Linked DNA regions of Homo sapiens. The protein of the gene in region 1 purifies or fractionates together with the protein of each later gene. This does not show direct contact. Each region holds a gene or a part of one and is shown on either strand. Other genes may lie near its edges.

Region 1 (3,500 bases):
TTGTCTGCTTTGCTTCAGTTCTTTCTTCTTCTTTTTGAAGTCATCCCATTTGGGCTTCTTGGCTGCTGATTCTAGTTATTATAGAAATTATTTTCAATTACATTTAACATTCTAAGTGTCATACACCAATACAAATTAGGTAAAAAGGGCAATCACTAATCAGGATCAATGCTCATTCTGGAAGCTAAAAAGGGGAACATACCATCCCCCATATATACTTCACTTTGCTTTCTGAGCAGTTTGTACATTTTACATTTGGTTAAATTTAAATCTTCATTAATTCTTCTAACAGGATACCTATTAAGAGAAAAGGACACTAAAAGAATTACAAAAGTAACTAGAATATTTTAAATATCTTTTTCAATTGTGAAATAAAATTCTACTTTTTAAGATTAAGATCATTGGACTTTAGGTATAATTAACTTCCAATGAAAACAAAAATTAGTCCAAATGAAAACAAGAAAAACAACTTCGAAAATTCACTGTTCTGAGTGCTGTTGTATATTAAGTCACTTATTTCTTACAACAACTCGAAGAGGTAGGTATTAATATTACCCTCTCTTCCATGGTGGGGAAAAAGAACAAAGCAGTTGAGCTCTCTATCTGAGGCCACACAACCTGCAATGGTAGAATTAGGACTCAAACCTAGAAACAACCCTCTGCTGTCTTAGTCATGACAATGAACAACCAAAATTTCCAAGTTCGCCACAAACAGAGTGATACTATAAAAGTCGAATATCTATCACCACTTTTTTGTCTTCAAAATCCAAGTAACTTACCAATTGAACTAATGATGCCAAACAAAGAACAACTTACTAAAATGGGTATTATTTACATGAGTATCTGGCACAGAATCTTTTGGGGGAATTAGTCACTTCTAACTATCTCCCTGTCTCTATAAAAAACTGGGAAAAATGCAAAAAAAAAAAAAAAGAAAAGAAAAACCCTGTAAAACCAAAACCTAGCTATAGCCACTGATAATTTTCCCCTTGCTTCTTCTCCATACATGTTTTAATCTTTAAAAACTCAAAAAGTGGCCAGCTGCAGTGGCTCACGCCTATAATCCTAGCACTTTGGAAGGCTGAAGAAGAAGAATCATTTGAGGCCAGGAGTTTGAGATCAGCCTGGGCGAAATAGTGAGACCCCGTCTCCACAAAAAATTAAATTAAAAAATTAGCCGGGTGTGGTGGTACATGCCTGCAGTCCCAGCTACTTGGGAGGCTGAGGCAGGAGGATCACTTGAGTCCAGGAGGTTGAGGATGCAGTGAGCCATCATCACGCCATTGCACTTCACAGTCTGGGCAACAAAGTGAGACCCTCAAAAAAGAAAAAAATTCAGAATCTGCCTTCACTCAATATGATTAGATTATGTTTGCTCATGAAATTAACATTCCTCAAGAACATAATTTTTAATGGCTATCCAATATACTACAATGTATTTATTATTCCTTTATTGTTTACTTATATATTCATTCCCTGTCTGGTAATACAAAAGATTATAGGCAACAGAGGGCATATTTACCATTATATTAATATGGTATCCTCTACTATACAATAGAGGATAGGAACTGATCCAGGGCTAATTTAATTCCATAAATATTTGGGTACCCTTGACATATGTCATGCTAGGCTGCAGTACATTTATCAGTGTGGGGGTTGTCTAGTAACCAATCTCTCATGTTATTTTATCAGTCTAGTTACTGATACAAAAATATGAGAAAATGAAATCCAGAGTCCCATTTTGAGATATCAGGAACATATCTCCCATAGCAAAAGAAATCATAACTTTCCTCATATCAATGTGAGAAATTAATGTATATGTGTTTAAAATGCAGGCATCAAAAACTCCAGTAGAGAAAGAAAGATTTGGGATCTAGTAGAGAGGTTAGGAAAGAGAAAGTAGAAAAGAGAGCTGGAAGAGAAACTTCTGGCAATTGGGGAGGAGGAAGATGAGGGAGAAAGAAAAAATGAAAAGAGAAGATCAAGACTGGAGCATGAAAAGATCCTGGAGCCCTAATGGGAAACGATGGCATTTCCCCTCCTTCCTCTCTCCCTACCTCCTTGTCTTAAGGCTGCTGTCCCTCTGGTAAGCAGCCCTTAGGCAGGGTAAAAAGCAAGCACCAGGACTAGGGGATGGCACTGAGAAAACCATCCCCAGTGGTCTCAGCTGGCAACAAAGGAGCAGTGTTAAGACACGCTGTGCTGGAGAAAAAGAGAATAAAAGGCACCAGAAAAATTCTCAGGATGTTGCAAAGAAAGTAATGATATGACAATCCACATAACCTGGAAACTGCTTGTTTGAGATCAGTGCAGGACAAAGCACGACAGCGGAATGTTATAAAATAGAGAGCAAAGTTCTGGGTTAGAAATGACCCACTGAACATCGTTGACAGAGATGGGCAGTTTGTTTCAACAGACAAGCACGAGACCTGCCAATACTTCCAATCAGTGAGCAACTTGTCCTGAATCAATTAAAATCAAATCTGTCATGTGTGCACAACACCTTCTCTGGAACTACTATGGATCTGCGCCATCAGAGGGATTTATTGTATTAGACTGGCCTAAGCTCTGTGAAGGCAGGGTCTCTATGTTTCTTGCTCACCAAAGCATCCTTAACCAAGGCTGACACTTAGCTGGGGACAGACTGATTCTTTAAAGCCAGATTCTATGATTAGTTGGGGCCTGTATCCTTACTGATTATTTTTGTGTGTGTGCGTGTGTGTGTGTGTGTTTTGCCCTATCTCCTGGTACAATGCATAGAAAACTCAAATACTCGTTCGATGAACGAATAAATTTTAGCTTATAAAAAGAAATGTTTTATTGAGGTTCCACTGTATAAAGCCATTATAATTTAACTTAACTCCATGGCTAAGGTAATTCAGAAAAGGGCTAAGAAATAAGAAACTCTAAGCACCAGAGGAAAATTGTGAGCATGAAAGATGCTTTGTTGTTTATTTAAGCCACCTACCTGTCCCAAAATGTTACCTGCCAAGGAATAAGAATGTGAGGTTTCTAACGCACCTCCAGAGTCCCTGTGCACAATCGTTCAGGCACTAGTTCAGGCATGAACGAACCAGTACTTACCATCGCTTCTACCATCTGGCTGGAATTTTCTCTTCTTGTTGAATTTATTTGCCGGCTGGAATTTGTTCTTTGGTGATTTGTCCCCTTGCTGCTTATTCTTGAACTGCTTTACACCCTTTTTCCCAAGTTTTGTGATACTTTTCTCAAAGTTCCTAGATGTGACTTTAGGTCCACCTTCTTTAGCAACTTTCCTTGTTGGAAATGTCTTTGAAGAACCAGAATCTAGTGACAATAATAATTATAAGTTCAATGATTCTGGGCCCAAATCTCTTTTATCTATTGGATTATATCCATTACAGAAAATTATACTTTTTAATCCCAATACCATGTCTTACTCTCAAATATGCAACATATAGCCTTTTGAGTAGAACTGGATTTAAACAATCAAAACAAAAATAAAAAATTCTTTCCTTGAT
Region 2 (3,500 bases), about 34 Mb from region 1:
TTGCAGTGAGCCGAGATCATGCCATTGCACTCCAGCCTGGGCGACAGAGCGAGACTCTGTCTCAAAAAAAAAAAAAAAAAATTGAGATTTCAAAGCTGTGTTCACACCTGCACTCCCAGCTACTCTGAAGGCTAAGGCGGGAGGACCACACAAGCCCAGGAGTTCCAAACTAGCCTTGCTCTATTTATAGGGTAAGACCCCACTGCTATAAAAAAAAAAAAAAAAAAAAAAAAAAAAAAGGAGAGAATTCCGTAAATTACTTAGCTTCCTATATTCTGTCTCTTTAGTGAAACACTATGTCATTCAAGGCTAAAACTTATCTTTTTTTTTTTTTTTTTGAGACAGTCTCACTCCATCACCCAGGCTGGAGTGCAATGGTGCAATCTCAGCTCACTGCAACCTCCACCTCCTGGGTCAAGCAATTCTCCTGCCTTAGCCTCCCAAGTAGCTGGGATTACAGGTGCCTGCCACCACTCCCAGCTAATTTATTTATTTTTAGTAGAGATGGGGTTTCGCCATGTTGGCCAGGCTGGTCTCGAACTCCTGACCTCAGGTGATCCACCCGCCTCGGCCTCTCAAAGTGTTGGGATTACAGGCGTGAGCCACTGCTCTCGGCCTAAAACTTAAGTCTTTTACCACTGTAAGTCACGAGTACTACCTCAGCATTACTTATACCCTACATAGAGGAGATGCTCAATAAATGTTTGATGATTTAGCAATTGATGAGAAAGCAGGTAATGTATGTGCCAAGAAATTACTCTAAATATTATTATAAGCAGGTTTATGAGTATGGAAAAGACCCAACCTCAAGGAGCCTGTAGTCTTTTCTTTTATGTCATACTGCAGTTTTCAGTATGCCATAATTCTGGGAGATATTTTGTTTTTTTCTTGAGTGAGGTCAAGGAAACAGAACACAAAATAATTATGGATACTGTTTAACAATAGGCATTTCTAAAGTACTTGAGATTTTCTCTACACTTTTACAGAAATGAGAAAAATCTTCTCTCTAAAGATTATATGAACCAATCTATCCCCAGATAGTTTTATGAGAGGGATAGTGATTACAGAGTAACAACACACTTAAATGGGCATCAGTACTAAATATGTTGTTTATTAATTGGAAATAGGATTACAGCATTAGTGGATCAAGGAAATAAAATGGAGAATATATATTTGAGTATTTGTAAGAGTTTATAAGAGTCAAGTAAATTAATTTCCAAAAATTCAGAATTTAATTCTATTTGGCTAAAACAGAAAACAAATCCAAGGTTCTCTCTACTTTCTCATCACCATCATTTGCCAAATATGGCACAGTTCGATTTCTTCACTAAATCCAGCACCTAATTCATGTTTTTCCCAACCTATCCACATTGTGCCATCAACTTTAGCATGTCTGTAGATTCTCTAGTGCAAACAGAAAGCAGCAGGGAGTTGTTTCAAAGGAAAGATAATAAGCTTTTTTTTCAAGTTATCAAGCTTTCTTTTCAGTATGTCAAATGTGAGACAGTAAGATACCCAAATGGAAATATTCTGTAGATGTACACAGAGAATTTGAAATCAACAAAATGGTTAAGGAGATGACAATTTGATGACCATAAATACAGAAGTGATTAATGAAACTAGGTGTGATCTCAGGAAAAGGTAATTTAGAGAAAGAATAAGCTAAATGCTTATTTTGGCCTTCTATAGTGTTACGCCTAACCCAAGATCATTTTGTTTCTGTCATCTTGCTCCAAGCTGACAAGTATTACTGGATAAAGTTATGGAATCCTTCAAAGTGAGTTCACTACAAGTTCACATCATTTTAATTTTGACTGAATACTACTTCTAAACAATCCTTTATTCTCTTACTGTTGATTCACTCAAGTGCAATGATTTCCAACTTAAGAGCCTTCAGCCTCCTGGGAAACTGCAGAATTAGTTACCTTAATGGGTACCTAGAGCAACGCATTATAAACACTATTTCTCACATATCAATGTTGTGATTAATAAAACACAAAGTCATGTAAGAGTAGTAGCTTCTTTCTAATATGCATTTTCTCAATTGAATACTAAAATCATAACTACAACCATGGGTGGTCCACAAATTGTTTCAAAGTTACACAGGTTGTCATCTTCAAAATACTGGTAACCACTGCCTCAAAGTATTCCCCACAGCACTTAAACATCCCTTCCACATTCTAAGCTTCCAATTATCCCCCGCCCTCTCCCACTTCTGCTTTCATTTTCCTAAGAAAATCAAACACATCCCCATATGTTCTCTCATCTGCCTCAATCCATCTGAATTTATTCTTTCTCCTCTACCTCTACAAATATTTGATGATTTAGCAATTACTAGTGTCTCTCTTCCTTTTTAGGAATAATTCAACAACACATACACCTGATCCTATCTCTAACCTGGCCCCCAACCCAATCCATCAAACAGGTTTAGTCTCTCCTTCACAAGTTTCTTTCTTTCTACCTACAAACATTATCAGAGCTCACCTATATGGAAAAAACTTTACGCGATTCTGTTCTGTCCTAACTACTATTCTCTCTTTTCGTTTTGCTGTCAAGTTCTCAGGGTTTGCAAACTACAGCCTGAGCCGGCCACCTGTTTTTGTAAGTAGGGCTTTACTGAGAACAGCCACCCCCATTTCTATAGGTATTATTTAAGGCTGCTTTCCCACAAGGGCCAAGTTGAGTAGTTAAGATATCACATGGCTTGGAATCCTAAAATATTTTCTATCTGGCTTCTTAAAAAAACATTTGCCAATCCCAGGGGCTCCAAGCACAATCTACATTCAATGTCATCATTTCTAGGGAAGCAGGCTGCCATTAAAAATTTTGGAGCAGCAATAAAGTACTATGAGTAAAAGAGCATTTCAATACCAGTTTTAACAACAGTGTACAGGGTAGATATAAAAGAAGACTACTTAGGAAACTAGTGCAAGAGACTGAGCATTAGGCATAAAGGGAGGGAAATGAAAAGGAACTTCTTGAAGGCATAAGCATTAAGACTAGATGACTACATGTCACAGAGACATAACTAACACCAAAATTTTAATCCTTGATGATGTAGCTATCAAAATTTGCATTCTCCCCTATAACCTGCCCTAGACTTACAGCTCTTCATATTTTCCTGTCTTTCTGACTGTGGAGTACCTAAAATCCTAATCCTAACACTAATTCCATATATTCTGTGTGCCAGACATTCCCTATGCTTGCCATCTAACTCCTGGGTAAGCAAATCCCATAGGAAGAGACAGTCCCAACAGAGTTGGCTGAATGAGTGCACAGGGCTAATGCCAGAGGTGGATGGAGTACTCACCTGTGGTACCAAGCAGAGAGAGAGGGGGGAAGTAAGATTTCAGGTCCAGAACTGGCTCTAGCCAAACAGGAAGAAGCAGCTATGAATCTGCTTACAGCAGAAGCAGAGTGTCTTTGGTATTCTGACATACTCTTTCTGACGTTCAGACAAACCACCATTAGAGTAGCCACTGGTAAGAGAGTCGCATGAG
Region 3 (4,240 bases), on another chromosome or scaffold:
CCTGTAGTTCCAGCTACTCGACTTGGGAGGCTGAGGCACAAGAATCGCTTGAACCTGGGAGGCAGAGGTTGCAGTGAGCCAAGATAGCGCCATTGCACTCCAGCCTCGGTGACAGAGCGAGACTCTGTCTCAAAAAAAAAGAAAGATCACTCACACTAGTTGCAGTGGGAGAATGGATTGAGGCAAGACAGGACTGAGTCCTGGAGTTCCAGGAGTAAGTCACTATAATCCAATCAAGACTGATTTGGTAGCTAAGTCATGTGTCCCTGATGACACAAGTAAGGAATTACCCCCAAAACACAACTCTTCCATATAAAGACCCAGAAACTCCTGAATTTCTTAAAAGTTCTAAAGGCTGAATGGACAAGCCCTTTCTAACCAGTTTTCAACACGCAGCATGAGTCTAATAGCCTGGTTACATCAGCCAAAAGCGTCAGACATAGAACGCCACCCACTCCTTCCAAACTACATACGACCAACAACCTCTGGGCACTCTTCCGAGCTTCTTGTTCATGCTTTATCGCCAAGGCCTAGAAAAGTGAATGCAAACAGTTAAGAACCGGCCCTACATTCTTGCTGTCTCTGCCTCCGAGACTCAGGAGCCACTTTTCAAGAGCCGAGACAACTCGTTAGAGAGGAGCCGTGGCCTGCTCTGGCCGAAAACCCCTTCCTATTAACAGACTGCAACTAGCCCGGAACGACTTTCAATTTGCAGAGTCCAACCATATTCCACAAGACAATCTACCACCTCAAGGTTCACGCGTGGATTCTACACCTTAAATCCTTGGATACTGTCTTTGATTTGGAGATGAGCAAAGAAAGGAAACAAGACAAGAGAAAGTGACAAAATGCTTACCAACCCAGAACAAAGAGTACCTAGGAGGGGCAAAATGTACAAAGGAAAGATGGGACTAAGGAACAGAGAAGTGATATGCAGATGAGAAGAGAATATGGTTTGTGTTCTAGCTACTGTTGCATTTGTCTTATGAATATTAGGAATGTATATGATTAACGTGAGTTGGTTCTATTGCTTAAATATAGAAATAAGAATGAAAGGTGATTTTTCCTTAAAGTAAAAAACTGAAATAGAACATTCTCATGCCAAGTAGTGGAGAAGAGATTTCTAGTTGTCGTAGGGGAGGAGGTGAGCAAAGGCGATACTAAAAGGGAGGCTGATTTTCTGAATCAAACCCGGCAGGGACTGGCTTGGAGTCATTGACACAATTAGTCTATTAGGCTAGTGTAACACTAAATATAGGGACAAGTCTCAGAAGGGAAGAACTACTTACGTCTTATTTGTTCTTTAAACACTCTACATCAGTGATTTTGATAACGACTTGTCATATGTAACAATCTGCCAATAACTGGTTGAGTTAATGTAAAAAAATAATTTTCTAACGGCTGTTTAGTTTCTTCTGTAAAAATCCCTACCCTAATACACTGTATTGAGTATACCATTGTTTGAAGTAACAACAAATTGGAGACAACCCAAATGCCCCCGAATAGATCTAAAAAAGGACAGAACATCGAAAACATCCAAACAATGGCCCATCCAATACTTACCACAGCTCTGTAAAACAAAACGAAACAAAACACAACTTCTGTGTTCTGACATGTAGAGACCAGTAAGATAAAGTGAAAGAATCAAGGAGTTAGAAGGATTTCTATCACCTGTGTGAAAAAAGGGGGAACTAACTAGTTATATTTGCCAGTATTTGCAGAAATTCGGAAAAGATACAAAGGAACAAAAGTGGTTACCTAAGAGGGTAGGGCCTAGGAAGATACCTAAGCGGGATGGGAAGAAATCTTTCACTGGTAACTTTTTATATTTTTAATATCCCAGCCATATGAATATATTACATATTTCATATTATTATTTTTTTTAAGCCTTGAGCTTTCACAAAGAAATGCTCCTGCTGGCCAACTACTTTAAATGTCTTAGAGCAGCACACCCAGCCCTGGCATTCCCCAGTGATCTTTTCCGTCCCACCCCTGGGTTCCCGCAGGCTGTCCCCTGGGTCTAAGAAACTCTTCGACCTTCCTCTCCCTACCTAGTTAACTCCTTTTCTGCTTGCAGGAACACGCGGCAGGTCGCCTCCTCCCCGGTGCACCCGTCTGTATGCAGGTGCGCTTCCCCAGATGAGGGCTAGGACGCACCTCCGGGGTCTCTATTCACACCTGCAGCGGGAGCTTATCATCATCACTCACCGACCAAAAAAAAAAAAGAAAAAAAGGTGGTGGGGTGGAGCGGAGGGGAAGAAGGTCGAATCAGATCACCCCTAGAGGTCTCTCTGCCCTCGCAATCACTCTCAAGTCCTAGAGTACCAAACTTAACTGCAGAGGGAGCACGAAATGGTGGGTATTTTGAAGCGCTAATTTTTAGGGATCCCCTCCCATCCAAAACAGGGATGAATAGTTGAGGAACACCGGAGCGGGGCCCTGGCCCTTCTCGGAACGTTGAGCAGACCTAACATGACGCTGGTCCGTTCAAACGTCGCAGTTGTGGCCCACACAGAGCCCAGTCTGTTCCAGGGGCGCGCCCTGCACCCCTCTGCCTGCCCGAGGTCTTCCCTCCCCTCCGCTCCCCAGAAACGCACCCACTGAGACATGTGCGGGGAGGGGGCACGCTTACTCCCACATCCCGCCCGAGACCCGCGGAGCAGCCAAGACCCGGCCAAAAAGGGGAGGGCGTGGCAGGCAAGGGCCGGGGGCGGGAGCGCGGGCGGCCGCGGACTCACGTACTGGCTGTGGCGGCGCCGCGGGAACCCGGCCGCCAGCGGGACAAAAGCGCGGACCGCACGGCCGGAAGAACCCGCGCCGGCCCTGGGGCACTTCCGCGCCCTCTCTGGGACGCTGGAGGACTGACTCGATGGTCCGGGCCGACGGCGCCGGCGGGAGGGAGGGAGGGGAGCGCCTCCTCGGCTATTTATTGAGGACCAGCTGCAGGGCGCGCGCTCCAGGCGCGGCCAGGAGGCCGTGGGCGGGGCTTTCTGTTTCCGTGCCCATTAGCTTCTGGGGTAGGCTGGGGGAGGGGCACAGGTAATAAAGTAAATACCTGCCTACCTGGTTCCTGAACACGTGATTCATTGCCAGGTGTGGGTGCGGGGACGTTCCCGGAAGTGGGGGCCTGGCGGGAAATGGGGGAATCCGGGAGGGGCGCAGGACAGCGCTGGGCTGGGGACCCATTGCCTTCTCAGCTGGTTGGGGGCTGGCCCGAGAGCACCAGCCCTTCCTGGTCGTCAGCACCAGAAGCGCCCCCGGTTAGGCACTGGGGATGCGGAGTGGGAGCGCGCCCCTGGAGCCGTCCCTGGGACCGGGCCACGCTCCCACCCGGGGCGCCAGCTTGGCAGCGACCTCGCCCCCTGCCCACCCCACCGCCGGTGTCGGCTTCCAAACCCAGGGCCTAAAATGACTTTGAAGACCTTTTTTTTTTTTTTAAATTAATGTTTGTGGGTACATAGTAGGTGTCCCTATTTGTCGAGTACGTGAGATATCTTGATACAGACAGGAATGCAATGCGTAATAATCATATCAGGGTTAATGGCGTGTCCATCACTTCAAGCATTTATCCTTTGTGTTACAAGCAATCAAATTATATTCTTATTTTTAAATATACAACTAAGTTATTGGCTATAGTCAGCCTTTTTTAAAAACAGCAACATCTAAATATTTTTCATATTAAGTTTAAATAATTGCAAAGGGTATATTTTTGGCATGCTGTTAATATTAAGAACAAAATTGCTTTCAAGTGTATCCAATGGAATCTAAATCCCTGAAGATTTGGTATTATCCACTTTTAACAGTCATAAGTTTTACATCTTTTAGGGTTTTTTTCCTTGAACTTTTATGTCCCTCACCGGCTTTTTATTCTACTGTAAAAATATTTTCATTCTATGTGCCTCATTGAATTTTATCCTAGTGTAAAATAGTTCTATGCATTGTTTTATTGTTTATTGTTTATCCTAGCATATATGTCCGTAACGAAAGTAGATTACATTTTTTCTTAGTGTTATTTTCTGGATTATTAGCAAAATTATATAAATATTTCAAAATGTTTACTGTTAATTCTTAGACAAAAAGTGAAGTGCTTTGGAAGCACAACTTGTAATGAGATGGATTTTGTTTTACAGCTCAAATTATTTATATTATTTGAATGAATTTTACATATTGCTGGGGTGAGCCGGTGTTTGGCATCAGCTCGACGCCTATTTTTCATTTTTATACATGTGGGTGCTGAGAC
Region 4 (3,500 bases), on another chromosome or scaffold:
CACCTACAAAAGCATCCTAGAAAACAAGTGCTTTATCTAAATGGATTATTTCTTTTGTTCCTCCTAGAAGATGGCTACGGAGAAACAAAGGATTTACAGGAAAACTTTTCATAAACATTCATAAGTAGCCTTTAAAAAAGAACTGTTCAATTTCTATTTAAGACACTGGCTTGGTTCCCATAAACAAATGTCGCACTAAGAGTAAAACTTATATTTAAATAATTACAACTGTTCCTTATAATTTAATCAATCAGAAAGCAGTATCTTAAGAATTTTAACGAAGGATCCTCATGCCATAAACCAAAAAACTTCATTGCCTTCCTTTGAGACTTAATCAGGACTTTGGCAACTTTTAAAACACAGCATCAGAAAACCAGTAAATAAGATTAAAGTTGTTAACCTCTTAGAGCTCCCAAAGTTATGAAAAATATGAAAATTCATTGGCACTTATTCTGTGTTTAAGTATGGGGGAAAGGAGGAAGAGTTCATTGCAAAGAAACCCAGTCTAAGTTTCTTAGTTTTCACTTTCTCTCAGTCCCCAAAAGGCAACAATAAGCACATAGTAAGACAATGTAATAGAAGACCCTCCACTGGGAGTAAACTTACCTGTAATGTTTTCTCGTCTTTAAGGTCCAATCCAAACACATTATGCCGCTTCACCTTCAAGAAATCAGCATCTTCTTCCTCCTCATCTCTGTCCAAGAACTGTGTAGGAACTTCCTTGATCTTCTGTGCCTCACTGGTGTTAGGAAGAGATGGGGCTTGAGATCCTTTTGCTTTTGCCAGTTTCTCTTCCATTTCTTCTTCATCGTCTTCTTCTTCTTCCTGTTCTTCATTACCAGTATCATTATCCTGTCTGTGCTCTGTCCCTTCGAGTCTTTTTCCACCTTTTTGAAGGATGGACATTTTCTCATTGAAGTAGGCTCTAAATTCTTCCACTTCGTCATTGGTGAGGGAGGGAGCCCTTGGCTCAATTACTTTATCGGCTTGGCTCCTTACCAATTCTTTGGTGGGTTGTTTCTGCATTTTCTGAAGAAATCTTACGCGTGGTGCCACAGCAAGACCAAGAGACCTTAAATATGGAAAAACGTGAAAACAGTCATCTCAACACTGATGATATGTTTATAGGTGTCATAGAAGAGTTTCTCAAGAGCAGAGATTCCTAGAGCTTTTTTAAAGAAAATGTTCCTGTGAGATACAACTCAATACTAACAGGTTAGTTGATCCAAAAAGTAAGGCAAAATACACTCAACACCTGTCAGAAAACATTTTAGACACTATTTTTTCTTTAAGAGGGTAACATGGAATAAGATAAAGAGCACTGGACCAGAAACAAGATAACAGTTCAAGTACTAGACCTGCCAATTTCCAATTCAACCCTCTCAGCTTCAGCTTCCTTATAACATGGGGATAACAGTACCTGCCAGGCCTAACTCACAGTTGCTGTAAGGATCCAATTAACTAACTACATGAGAGTACCTCATAAAATGTTAAGTACTAAATAAACCAGAGAAGACATGACCATGAAAGGACAAAACAGTTCTCTACAGAGAAAGAACTGGAATGTGGTCCCCATCTCCCTTCCTAAAAGAGAATATGGCACAATCATTGCTATAAAAATGGATTTTATAAACCAAACACCAAAAAAAGAAATTAAAAAATATTGTTTTCTCCATCAATGATCAATATTCAATTTATTATCATGTCTTTCCCAGCTTGGATCAAAGCTAATAGCTTCATTAAGTTCTCAATGATCGAAGGGAAATAAAATCTTAGATTTTATCAAGGATTGCTCTGAATAAACAGTAACATCATAACATGGACCCACTGCTCTTTTCCTATCTGACATGGTTCAAAGAAACTGAGAGATGTAATGCTGAGAAGCATGGATTCAGAAATAAGACTGCTGGGGTTCAAAATCTGGCTGCCACTTACTAGCTGTGAGATCTTACGAATATGATTTAATCTTTCCATACCGGAGCTTTCCCATTTGCAAAACGGGATGCTAAGAGTACCTACCTCACAGGGTTGTTGTAAGAATAAATTAGTTGACAGATGTAATGCTGTTAAAACTAGTGCCTGGCATATAGGGAACTAATGAGAACTTGATGTCATCACCATCACCACTGTTAGGGTTAGGATCACAAACTCATCCAGAGAATTTCACTCAATGTATTGCACTTACATTTTTATGTCTCTCTCAGCTACCAAAACTGAGTTTATTGAAGGCAGCAGTACATCTTATACATCTACAATTTAACATCTAGTACAATGACCTGCACATATTAGGTATTCAAAACATGTTTCTTTAGTAAAATTTTAAAACCTTTAATATATCTTACATACACAGCACTGCTTTAGGTATCAAAGGCTTCTAAAGGAAATTACATACCTCAAGGAAACAACATAGCTAAATATCTAAAAAAATTAAAATACCAAACTCAACTATACTAAAATTTGTTCTCAACGTTAATTTTCTGCCTTCTCTAAGCATCACAAAAAGCAAAAGTCATCAACTACCAATAGATAAAATTTACTGGAATCTATTGCAACAAATGGTCCCCTAAATATGGCCTACAGTGTTAAAGACCTGTGCCTTTCCTATCTGCTAATATCAAGGTAGGTCAAATCAGAAAACCATGATAAAAATTAACAGGGAGCCAAAAGTCCACTAATAACCTAAGCCATGGATCATATTCAGAAATAATAAAACTAGGAACTGGTATTTAAACATATGAGCAAACAACAACATGTTATCCATGGCATGTGGCTTTCCATCTGTCACTTAAATGGAAAGTCAGCAGCCCTACACTGCTATAAAGCAATTTAAAAGGTTCAAAAATGTAATAACTGACATATTACCTGTTATGGTAAACATACAATCTAACAGAGAATAGAAAACGACAGCTCACTTAGATATATGTTGTAGTTAGACTCAGTTTAAAGGTAAAGGCACTCAAATTCCTAAGAGCAAGCCAAACATACAGACCTTGCCTTGTAATCACATATTTCACCATAGTCTGGGAAATTTCATGCTGATATTCAAAGTATGATTATCTCAAAGGTGCTTCTATAAGATTGTGCCAATGTTTTTACCACTCCCACAGTAAGAGCCCACTGAAGAATAAACATTCCTTCTTTATAGGTCAAAAGGTTTAAAAAAAAAAAAAAAACCCGGCCAGGCACAGTGGCTCACACCTGTAATGCCAGCACTTTGGAAGGCTGAGGTGGGGGGATCACTTGAGCCCAGGAGTTTGAAACCAGCCTGGGCAACATGGCGAAACCCTATCTCTACAAAAATTACAAAAAAACTAGCCAGCCATGGTAGCATGCACCTGTAGTCCCAGCTACTCAGGAGGCTGAGATGAGAGGATCACCTAAGCCTGGGAGGTCAAGGATGCAGTGAGCCATGATCACACCACTGCACTATGGCCTGGGTGACAGAATAAGACCCTGTCTCCTCCCCCGCAAAAAATCCCTCAAATACTAAGCCAAAACAA
Region 5 (3,500 bases), on another chromosome or scaffold:
GCTAGGGATGTTTACAAGAGAAGAAAATTTGAGCGTGATTACGGTGTTCAAGTATATCGAAGGTTATTGTATGAAGTCACATAAAGTAGAAGTTAGAGGACATACAGAATTCAAGGCTGCTCTGGGAGTATGAGAATGTGTAAAGGGGACTCAAGAACGAGATTGGACTAGATGACCTTTATGTTCCCTTCAATTCTGAGATCTGTCCCCAGCCAGTATATTGAAATGAGTTACATTTTTCCCTCGGAAGGAATAAAGAATTAATGGCTACAGAACAGAGGTAAGAAGATACACATTTCAATAACATTCTTTTTGATCTTATTTTGTGAACCAATCACTGCAGAAACTGAATCATAACTACTGCAGTCCCAATTAAACCTATATAACTAGAAAATAGGCAGTTACACGATAAGGGAAGGGGGGAAAGGGTGCTTCAGTGGGCCAGGATTCCAGGTGATGGGTAGAGTATGGAGCTCAATAAAGACCACCCTTCCCTTCCAGGGGTCTGTTTGTTTTTTTAATACAGTCATGGCAAACTGACAAATAGTTTTCTAGGAATCTCCCCTGATTTTCATCTTTTTAATAAGTTACTGCAGGTTCCAACATGCAGTAGAATAAAGTGCTTCAAGGTGCCTAGGGGGGACTTCTGAGACTGAATACTTTGTCCAGGTGTTCTCTTTTTCTGTTGCCCTGGTTGACAAGCACAGATGTAGCCGTCAACCCAAATAAGACATTCCCTTAACTTAAAGAGAATCTGTTTCCTTTGCTACTACCAGGACCACCTGATAGTACTTAGCTTCTCTTGAGTATTCCACTGAATGTTTCCAGAGACTACTGATTTTTGTTTGTTTGTTTTGTTTTCAGATGGAGTCTCACTCTGTCACCCAGGCTGGAATGCAGTGGCACGATCCCAGCTCACTGCAACCTCCACCTCCCAAGTTCAAGCTATTCTCGTGTCTCAGCCTCCTGAGTAGCTGGGATTACAGGCATGCGCCACCACACCCAGCTTATTTTTGTATTATTAGCAGAGACAGGGTTTCACCATGTTGGCCAGGCTGGTCTTGAACTCCTGACCTCAAGTGATCTGCCTGCCTCGGTCTCCCAAAGTGCTGGGATTACAGGTGTGAGCCACCGTACCCTGCCAAAGACTACTGATTTTTACATCCCCATTTTCTGCTTACGTGTTTTCCTCCTTTGGCCACTGGGGAAGTGTTGAAAGATTATTTAATGTCTGAAGGTAGCAATGTGGTGGAGGAGTACCAGGCAAGGAAACAGGAGCTTTGGGTTCTGTTCTCCAATGCTGCTCCTCATTTACTTAGGTCCATCACTTCCCCCCTCTAAGCCAAATCTTCAGGCCAAGGGAGATGACCATTGTCAATATCTAGGGCCTTCCAGCTCTACATTCTGTGGTGCCAAAAGAAGATGAAGCTAAGTGGGCCGGGCATGGTGGTTCACACCTGTAATCCCAGCACTTTGGGAGGCCAAGGCGGGTGGATCACAAGGTCAGGAGATCGAGACCATCCTAACACAGTGAAACCCCATCTCTACTAAAAAAAAAAATACAAAAAAAAATTAGCCAGGCATGGTGGCAGGCCCCTGTAGTCCCAGCTACTAGGGAGGCTGAGGCAGGAGAATGGTGTGAACCTGGGAGGCGGAGCTTGCAGTGAGCCGAGATCACGCCACTGCACTCCAGCCTGGGAGACAGAGCGAGACTCCATCTCAAAAAAAAAAAAAAAAAAAAAAAAAAGATGAAACTAAGTGTAACGGCCTGGTAGAGTTCAGGATTCGGGTTCCTTAAAACATCAATCCTGGCCAGGCGCGGTGGCTCACGCCTGTAATCCCAGCACTTTGGGAGGCTGAGGCGGGTGGATCACGAGGTCAGGAGATCAAGACATCCTGGCTAACACGGTGAAACCCCGTCTCTACTAAAAATACAAAAAATTAGCCGGGCGTGGTGGTGGGCACCTGTAGTCCCAGCTACTCGGGAGGCTGAGGCAGGAGAATGGCGTGAACCCAGGAGGCAGAGCTTGCAGTGAGCGGAGATCGTGCCACTGCACTCCAGCCTGGGCGACAGAGCGAGACTCCGTCTCAAAAAACAAAAAAAAAATATCAATCCTAAGAGAGGGAAGGAGGAGACTGAAAGCATAAAGAGGGTAGAAAAGTCATAAAATCCACAGGGATACACAATGGTCTGGATTCTTGCAGTCACAGTGTTACATAGGAAAGCTCACTCTGGGACAACAGCCCTGGAGCTCCTGTAGCTAGATAGGGACAGTGTCACTTGTAATCCCAGCTACTTGGTAGGCAGAGGTTGCAGTGAGCAGAGATCACCCCACTGCACTCCAGCCTGGGCCACAGAGTGAGACTCTGTCTCAAAAAAAAGAAAAACAAAGATGGGCAGTGTCAGGGTGGTTTTTCAGACCCTGAATTGTTGAATAGATGGGGGATCCAGAGCCAACTCAGGCCCCCCTACTCCCAAATGTCATCAAACAGATTGAATTCCTAAGGGCAGATGGGAGCAATGGGACGCCTTGACCTCTCAGTCTCTTCACTTGCAGTCATCATGTGGAACCGTGGCCTGTACCAAAACAGTACCTGATGAAAGCTGCCATTACAGTATACAACTGCACCCCAGGCCTGCCTCATACCAAATCATTCTCCTTCCTTTCCAGGTACGAGTGCTTCCATATCCATTTACCCACCATTGGCAATTTGAAAGGACCATCCAGACCCCCATAGGATCCACATGGAACACCCAGAGGGCTTTCCAAAAGCTGACTACTCCCAAGGTCGTCACCAAGCCAGGCCATATCATTAACCCCATAAAAGCAGAAGACGTGGGCTACCGGTCTTCCTCAAGGTCGGACCTGTCTGTCATACAGAGGAATCCAAAACGAATCACCACACGTCACAAAAAACAGCTGAAGAAATGCTCTGTAGATTGAGTTGCTGGAGGAGTGACAGCCAGGAGCCCTGACTTCACTTCCTTTGGTCCAGTTTTACTCTGATACAGGGTGGATTCCAAAACTGGCTCAGTACATTGCATGTAGTTAAGCCACATTTTAAAAATAAAGGCATTTTTTAATCTATTTACCTGGAGTATATGTTGCATTGTCCCCCAGTGGGATCATTTCGTTCAAGTCAGACACCTTTGGACTCTACAGCATTGCATTTCTCGAGTTGCACTTGTCAGGGCCACCTCCTTTTCTTACCAAGGATTATGTAGTTGGTCCTAAATCGAAATGGAGAAAGTTAACTGTAGTCTGTAACCTTAAATATATCACATCAGATATGATCCACCATTAATAACTGCCAACTTGAAGAGACAGGGTTAATAATGATAAAATATTGTATATTTTAACCTCTGAACCTAGAAAGAGGATGTACAAACTGCAATTGGATTCTGCCCTAGACTGATCCTAAGACCAGGACGGTGCCGAAGCTGGGTTCTGTCCCCACAAGTCTAGCCACAGCCATTTTTTTCACATGTGTGAGCTTCC
Region 6 (3,500 bases), on another chromosome or scaffold:
TTACTACAAGAAGAAAAATAGTTGAAAGCTGTATTTTTTTTTTTTTGGAGGAAAACAATATCAGCTACACATTAAAAAGTGAAATAATAATAGGTGATATTTATTAAGTTCTTACTCTTCCACACACTATTCTGATGATTAAGCTAATGTCACAAGGTTAGTAATATTGTCCAGACAAATTCTAGGTCTCAAACTAACTACTATGCTATGCCACCTCATTAAGAAATTAAATGTCCTAAGTGGAAAAAAAAATACGTGTGTAAAAATCATGTTATATTACAGGCTACAGTAAAAAAAATTTAGGACTGCAGTATCTTTATAGAAACATCATGAAAGGGAATAACTTATATTTTAATAAAAATATTATTTGCATGTTATATGACTGTTATATGACAACAGTAATGCTGCTCTCAATTTCAGAAGCAAGTCATGAATGATAAATAACACATCCATGGAGCAAACAGAGGTATCTGAAATCATTATAATTATCATTAAAATATTAAATCATGTATTAAATTCTGTAAATGGGCAAAGACAGTATTTCAGTCACTATTGCTGAACCTAGCACAAAGTAGGCAGTCAATGGTATTTGTTAAATTGTAATGAAACACTGATTTAAAACATCAAACCTTTAATAATCTTATTTTCCCTTTTGAATTTAAAAGGACTTTGGAAAAAAACAATTTGGATGGTCAAATATTTTTGTTTGCTTTTTAAAATGCTATACAAAGAAGTGTGAGCTGCCACCTTTTTCTACTGATAAATGTTTACATAATGGATAGAAGTATTCAAAATCATGTATCCAGCCCTCTAGCTACATCAATATTAGATATTTGCCATATCTATGGGAGATTATGGAAGTACTTTTAACCCTAAAAATCATTTCTAAATGCTAGCACTAAATTATTGATTTGCCTTTCCATCTTTTACCTTCTTCATGTATAGAAAATCTTCATGTATGGAAAATCAGAAGCTCCCTAGTAATAATCTCATTATTATTATTTTCTGATGGATCTCATAGACCTTTATTAGAGCCTTCTCTATAGCAATTCTTTACAGTTATTAGGTCATTAGTACATACTTTTCAGTGAGCATTTATGAAGCTGTCTAACATGTGTCAGGATCACATGCCACCTTTCACATATGTGATGCCACCAGCAACAACTCCAAAAGCAAACATATAGTTATATCTCACTACCTGTGGGGGATTGGTTCCAGGACTTCCCCAACTTCTCTGCTGATACCAAAATTCACAGATGCTCAAGTCCCTTACATAAAATGGTGTGGTATTTGCATATAACTTTCACACATTTATGCATATACTTTAAATAATCTCTAGCTTACTTATAAGACCTAATATAATGTAAATACTATGTAAATAGCTGTTATACTGTACTACTTTAAAATGTGATGTTTTATTGTTGTATTATTATTTATTTATTTTTCCTTGAATATTTTTGATCCCAGGTTAATTGACTCCTCTGATACAGGGGACCAACTGTTATTTATAGACAACCCTCCAAATAAATATACAAGGGCAGGGAGAAATGAGACTTAAGTATACATTAGGAAGTAGTAGATGAGGATAAGGTGACAGCTATATTATTTTCTAACTAAAATACTTACTTGGATTTTACATTCCACAACTGCAGGCTTCCTTGTTCACTGCCCAGAAGTATTTTATTCAAGTAGGTACTTGGATGCAAAATTGCAGAAATTTTAAATACTGATTTATCAAAAGTCAACTGCAGGTATTCTTCTACAAAAGTGAAAGTTATAAATATTTTTTATAAAATAGTTTAAAATGTTTTATGTAACCATATATTTATCACTTAAAGTAAGTCTATCACATCAAAGATTTATATGTTAAAATAAACCACAGACTTAGATACTAATCTATAAACATTCCTTGAGAAATAAAATAAATGAGAGGCAACTTGTAAATGTAATTTAATTTAGACTGTCAAAAATTTTCTGTAACTTCTAATAAAAATACTATTAAAAGTTTCATTCACTTTTGAATTACTTTACAGAAAAGGATAATAAAGTTAAAAAAAAAAGATCCTAAGGATTAGCATTCATGTTTCTGTAATTTGATCAACAGACAGGAGTGAATATTCCAAGTGAAGTGCTTATACTTAGCTCTTTCAGGGAACGAAGAGCCAATTATCTGGAAAGTTTGATGGGCCACTCAAAAAATGCCAAAAATAAAAGACACACCTCAGTGAAATAAGAGTACTTCTCACACATTTCCACAAAATAATCTCTAATAAAGGAGAAAAAAAAAACGTATAACCCTGTGGAGTGGGGGGTGGCATCACCAGTGGTCACTTGCTCCAAGATAAAAAAATTCTCTGAAATCTTTGGTTACATTCAAAATTTCTATGTTTGAATTCTGCTTTTCACTTTACAGTTCCTCCATGATTAAAACAATGTTCCACTCTATTTTCCAGTAAATTTGTGTATCAAAGAAGGTACATTTCACTTAATCTTTAGGTTCACATACTATCTGGCACACTACTGTACAATCCCAGGGTATGGGTACCACAGTTTAGGATGTACAGGTATAGGTGAAAATTATATAAACTTTACTTTGAATGCTATTTTAAGAGATCCTTGCCTTTATTCGTCAGTCACTACAAATGGCTCCCTGAATATACTGGTTCAAGAGAGTCTGCTGGAATGTAAGAACCAGATCCTGTAACCTAATAAAAGCCCTTTTAACTTCTATCTGCACAGGGAATACTTTTGGAATTCTGTTCCCTCCCTCTACTTGAGCAAAAACAAAACAAGAAAAGGGTTACTAATCTGAAACAAGAACCTGGAATAATTCCCAGAAATGCAATCTTCAGGATATTTACTGAAAAAAAAAAAAAAAAAAAAACAAAAAAAAAAACAAAAAAAAACCAAGAGGCAATATAAGCTAAAAATGTAACCAGATTAAAGAACTTAAAAGATTCAATTCATGATGAACCCAGTATTTTATTGAGGAAAGGTGTAGATATCCTAGGGATAAATTCTTCATGTTTAAAGATACATAATCCCATAAACATAGCCACTGTCTAAGCTATCACAGTTGAAAGAAACTGACTCATATCCCTAGGAAATGGATGTATATTTTCCTTCAGATTACAAGATCAAGTTTACTATTACAGTCTCCTTTACTAAAAGGTGAAAATACAAACCAAGAATTACTCAGGTATGAAAATACATCAATATTCACTCCACAGGGAAAACAATACAACAAATCATTAAAGTTGGAGAACTGCAATGGAAAATACATTAGTTGAGGTAAGCACATTAAACAGTTTATAAGTAGTTAACTTGCTAAAGTTGTTTATCTCTTTCTTACTTAGAACTTTTTTTCTTACACGTTAAAGATTTTTGATTTTTTTAATTTCTTACTATTTACAGGCAAAATCTCTGGCATAGATGTTTACATAGATTTTAAATTTTAATTAAACACATACTACCCTAAGATAAAGCAAATAAATGAGTTA
Region 7 (4,070 bases), about 130 Mb from region 1:
TGTTAGATACAGCATAATTTAAGCTGTTAGTCTTTCTAAATCCAGTATATTAGCTACCCATCTCAAGTTCAGGCTACTGGCAAGTCTCATCAGCATATCCATCATTCTCATTCACGACATCAATGAAAATGTAGATCTAGGCCTGGCTGGCTCACGCCTGTAATCCCAGCACTGTGGGAGGCCGAGGTGGGCAGATCACAAGGTCGGGAGATGGAGACCATCCTGGCTAACACACAGTGAAACCCCATCTCTATTAAAAATTCAAAAAAATTAGCCGGGTGTGGTGGTGGGCACCTGTAGTCCCAGCTACTCAAGAGGCTGAGGCAGGAGAATGGTGTGAACTCAGGAGGCAGAGCTTGCAGTGAGCAGAGATCGCGCCACTGCACTCCAGCCTGGGAGACAGAGCGAGACTCCATCTCAAAAAAACAAAACAAAACAAAACAAAAAACGTAGATCTAGACAAGGCCACCGCAGACACCTGTCATCACTGCATTAATTAATCCCCTTTTGATAACCATAAAACTAGGTAGCCTATATGTATTTACTCAATGCTTCTTATGTGTTAGTTACCAGGCTCTGCAGAGGACACAAGCACCCCACTGACCTCCTGATGTAGCAATCTATTATCCAAAATGGAGCCAAAACTACTTTATACTGTTGGCATTTATTAAGTGCTTCTATGGGCCAGACAACGTATAGTCTTCATGTATACTATCTCAATGAATCCTTACAATAGTCTTCTATGGAGTAGAAATTATTGTTCTCATTTTATAGATAGGAAAAGTGAGAATCAGAAAGATTAAGTGACTTGCTCCAAGGTCACAGAGCTAGTGTGCAGCAAGGGCAGCATCCGAATCCCAAGTGTATCCTATTCCAAATCCCATGCTCCCAGTGGCTCTTCTATCCTTCTCCCCGCTCCACCCAGATGCAGCTACACTTGGCTAGCTGGACTCCTTACTGCCAAACATCTAAATCCTAAAGTTTGATGATCACTTTATGATTTTAATCAGTCTTTCTGTCCTGTAGTCCTCTTTTCTAAGAGACAAATCAACTATCCTAGAAACCAGTTTTCAGTTACTGCTTAAGTTAATTCTAGGGCATCTTACCCCTCTCTAGCAATGGGATTATATCAATGAAACCGATTTTCCTATCCCCCTCCATTGCATGGGGATGAAAATCTGTCCCATTTTTGAAAGCTCTTCAAAAAAACTCCTAGTTGCCAGTCCTCATTCCTGAAACAAACGAACCTTCCTCATGGCGACCAAAAGAGTTAAACTCAAAAATATCTGAAGAGACTTATTCTGAGCCAAGTATGAGTGACCATGGCCCATGATCCAGCCCTCGAGAGGTCCTGAGAACATGTGCCCAAGGTGGTCGGGGTGCAGCTTTTTTTTTTTTTTTTGAGACGGAGTCTCGTTCTGTTGCCCAGGCTGGAGTGCAATGGCATGATCTCGGCTCACTGCAAGCTCCGCCTCCTGGGTTCACGCCATTCTCCTGCCTCAGCCTCCCGAGTAGCTGGGACTACAGGCGCCCACCACCACGCCCAGCTAATTTTTTGTATTTTTAGTAGAGACGGGGGTTTCATCTTGTTAGCCAGGATGGTCTCGATCTCCTGACCTCGTGATCCGCCTGCCTCGGCCTCCCAAAGTGCTGGGATTACAGGCGTGAGCCACCGCGCCCGGCCGCGGCTTGGTTTTATACATTCTAGAGAGGCATGAGACATCAAATACATTTCAGAAATACACTGGTTTTGTCCAGAAAGGTGGGACAACTCAAAGCGGGGGCTTCCAGGCTATAGGTAAATTTAAACATTTTCTAGTTGACGGTTGAGTTTGTCTAAACACCTGGGATGGATACAAAGAAAATGCTCAGGTTAAGATAAAAGATTGTGGAGACCAAGGTTCTTTTCAAGTCTTTAGTGGCTGCCCTTAGAGACAACAGACAAGTGTTTCCTATTCAGATCTTTGAAAGGTGGTAGACTCTTAATCTCTTTAGGATTGGGAGGGCCTGGAAGAAAAAGATCTAGCTATGTTAATAGAGATTCTTTGCAGATGCAAATGTCCACCCCGCCCGCCCCCCCCAAAGAACAGCTTTGCAAAGCCATTTCAAAATGTGGCAAAGAAACATGTTTAGGGGTAATATTTTAACTTTCTTCTTTGTCACATAATGTTAGGCCAGAGCCAGTTTGGAAAGTAAGTCACGATATATAGGGTTAAATGAAAGCCATCTGATGAGAATTTATGGTTTGTAGGGCATGACTCTTCCCAGACAGGAATGTGGGCAAGATAAAAAAAAAAATCAGAGCTTAGTCCGCACTCAGTCGAGGAAACTGGCTTAGAGAAGTTAAGCTTTGGCCTGGGACTTGCGCCGGAACTTCAGGTCCTACCTTCCACGGGAAACAGCCTCTAATTCCTTCCTTTACTTTTCTAGGCGCAGGAGCCAGCTCCCCGCCCCTCCACACCGCTCCACTCCCCGCTTCCAGGCGCATCCCTGCGGGTGGTGTTCCGGTTAGAGACACGTGTTTCGGCGCAACTTGTCCCGAAGCTGCCCGGTGTCTTTCTCCCGCTTAACTCCGTGAATGACTCGAAACCCGACTCCAAGGCACGGCTGCAGCTCGCGGCGCGCCCACAGCCGGGCCGCGGGTGGGGACGGAGCTGAAGCCGGGTCAGAACTCACCCGACTCGCCTGGGCTGGGGGACGTCTGGAGAACGTCCTGGGGTTGTCGAAGAGCGAACCGTCGGCGGCTGCCATGGTCTGCGTGGGTGACGCGTGGTGCAGCAGCGAGCCCGGTGCGCAGACTGCTGGGCCCGGGACCCCACGTGGGACGCGCGAGGACCCTGCGCCACCGCCCCTTCCGGGTCCGGAACGGCTCCAGCTGTACGGACTCGTCCCGAGGGGAGCCGGGGACGGCGGCACCGGGCGGGTAGGGACAAGACTACCGCGCGTGCCCCCGCCTGGTGGCAGCCCCTCTCTGCGTCCCTCGCGGCCTGGCAAAATTACATTCGGCCGAGAGTTCACGCTGGGGAAGCTCTCTGAATGCCTCTGAGAAGCGAGATCCGGCGCCATCTCACCGACGAGCCTCCCCTTTACCGCCCCGTGCGTTTCCTCAGCACTTTAGGAACTAAAGCCTGTCTGGGTAGCTCCCTAACAGGCTCTGGAGCTCAATCCCTGGGCAGGGAAAAGGGGGTCCTCGGGGCTCCCCGCTCGCTGTCCTTTTTCTGGACAGGCAGTTCCTTGGCCACCTGGTAGGGCCGCGTTGCCTGGCAACGGCGGGGTCCTTCTTGGCTCGGCGGCGCTCGGGGCCTGAGGGGAGAAAACCGCCGCGGAGGGCGCTGGGGGTGGCGGCGGCGGTCCGGGAGGTGGTCGCGCGACTGCGTGGAGCGCCAGGGCGTCCGACCTCTGCACCTGAGAGAAGATGAACACGGCCGACCAGGCCCGGGTGGGGCCCGCGGACGACGGGCCTGCGCCGTCTGGGGAGGAGGAGGGAGAGGGGGGCGGCGAGGCGGGCGGGAAGGAGCCAGCAGCGGACGCGGCCCCGGGGCCCAGCGCTGCATTCCGCCTCATGGTGACTCGGCGGGAGCCGGCCGTGAAGCTGCAGTATGCGGTGAGCGGCCTGGAACCGCTGGCTTGGTCCGAGGACCACCGCGTGTCTGTGTCCACGGCCCGCAGCATCGCTGTGCTGGAGCTCATCTGCGACGTGCACAACCCGGGCCAGGACCTGGTTATCCACCGCACCTCGGTGCCCGCACCGCTCAACAGCTGTCTCCTCAAAGTAAGTCATCCCCCGCCATCCCTGGGGTCTTCCCCTGTCCCCCTCTCGCGGCCGCATCATCCGTCCCAGGGGAATCCGATCCCACACTCTGTCCGGGGATTTCCCTCTTCGCACCGAGCGCTGGGGATTTATTAAGCAGCCAGGGTTACCACAGCTTAAAAAAAAAAAAAGAAAAGCTCTGCAGCTGTCTGCACCCTGTTTCCCCAGGTCACCCGCCGCCGCAAACACAGGTACACACCCAGGGGGCTTCCCGGAGTTGAGTCCCAGGAACCCCTCCTTCGCCCCTCCGTCGGGCCCG

What was found.
Region 2: the proteins of PUM3 (region 1) and ZCCHC7 purify together in Homo sapiens (affinity purification with mass spectrometry; 2 studies listed by BioGRID and IntAct, with this or other methods). This does not show direct contact.
Region 3: the proteins of PUM3 (region 1) and ZFP62 purify together in Homo sapiens (affinity purification with mass spectrometry; 2 studies listed by BioGRID and IntAct, with this or other methods). This does not show direct contact.
Region 4: the proteins of PUM3 (region 1) and DDX10 fractionate together in Homo sapiens (co-fractionation; one large-scale study listed by BioGRID). This does not show direct contact.
Region 5: the proteins of PUM3 (region 1) and UTP14A fractionate together in Homo sapiens (co-fractionation; one large-scale study listed by BioGRID). This does not show direct contact.
Region 6: the proteins of PUM3 (region 1) and WDR36 fractionate together in Homo sapiens (co-fractionation; one large-scale study listed by BioGRID). This does not show direct contact.
Region 7: the proteins of PUM3 (region 1) and DDX31 purify together in Homo sapiens (affinity purification with mass spectrometry; 2 studies listed by BioGRID and IntAct, with this or other methods). This does not show direct contact.

What each region holds. Positions count from the first base shown.
Region 1 is NC_000009.12:2,834,096-2,837,595, forward strand, and holds part of PUM3 (pumilio homolog 3), read right to left. Parts: intron 3,307-3,500; coding exon 3,085-3,306; intron 72-3,084; coding exon 1-71. UniProt on the Homo sapiens protein: Inhibits the poly(ADP-ribosyl)ation activity of PARP1 and the degradation of PARP1 by CASP3 following genotoxic stress. Binds to double-stranded RNA or DNA without sequence specificity. Involved in development of the eye and of primordial germ cells.
Region 2 is NC_000009.12:37,127,074-37,130,573, reverse strand, and holds part of ZCCHC7 (zinc finger CCHC domain-containing protein 7), read right to left. Parts: intron 1-3,500.
Region 3 is NC_000005.10:180,858,477-180,862,716, forward strand, and holds the start of ZFP62 (zinc finger protein 62 homolog), read right to left. Parts: upstream 2,801-4,240; 5' UTR 2,744-2,800; coding exon 2,743-2,743; exon of another isoform or gene 2,634-2,742; coding exon of another isoform or gene 2,633-2,633; exon of another isoform or gene 2,598-2,632; intron 2,204-2,597; exon of another isoform or gene 1,616-2,203; coding exon of another isoform or gene 1,564-1,615; intron 1-1,563. UniProt on the Homo sapiens protein: May play a role in differentiating skeletal muscle.
Region 4 is NC_000011.10:108,720,569-108,724,068, reverse strand, and holds part of DDX10 (probable ATP-dependent RNA helicase DDX10), read right to left. Parts: intron 1,073-3,500; coding exon 607-1,072; intron 1-606. UniProt on the Homo sapiens protein: Putative ATP-dependent RNA helicase that plays various role in innate immunity or inflammation. Plays a role in the enhancement of AIM2-induced inflammasome activation by interacting with AIM2 and stabilizing its protein level.
Region 5 is NC_000023.11:129,926,664-129,930,163, forward strand, and holds the end of UTP14A (U3 small nucleolar RNA-associated protein 14 homolog A), read left to right. Parts: intron 1-2,672; coding exon 2,673-2,945; 3' UTR 2,946-3,089; downstream 3,090-3,500. UniProt on the Homo sapiens protein: May be required for ribosome biogenesis.
Region 6 is NC_000005.10:111,098,848-111,102,347, reverse strand, and holds part of WDR36 (WD repeat-containing protein 36), read right to left. Parts: intron 1,760-3,500; coding exon 1,627-1,759; intron 4-1,626; coding exon 1-3. UniProt on the Homo sapiens protein: Part of the small subunit (SSU) processome, first precursor of the small eukaryotic ribosomal subunit.
Region 7 is NC_000009.12:132,667,184-132,671,253, forward strand, and holds the start of DDX31 (ATP-dependent DNA helicase DDX31), read right to left. Parts: upstream 2,801-4,070; 5' UTR 2,752-2,800; coding exon 2,677-2,751; intron 2,491-2,676; exon of another isoform or gene 2,489-2,490; coding exon of another isoform or gene 2,387-2,488; intron 1-2,386. Other genes in the region: GTF3C4 (general transcription factor 3C polypeptide 4), read left to right, coding at 3,416-3,772. UniProt on the Homo sapiens protein: May have DNA helicase activity and RNA helicase activity. Probably have ssDNA and RNA dependent ATPase activity. Plays a role in ribosome biogenesis and TP53/p53 regulation through its interaction with NPM1.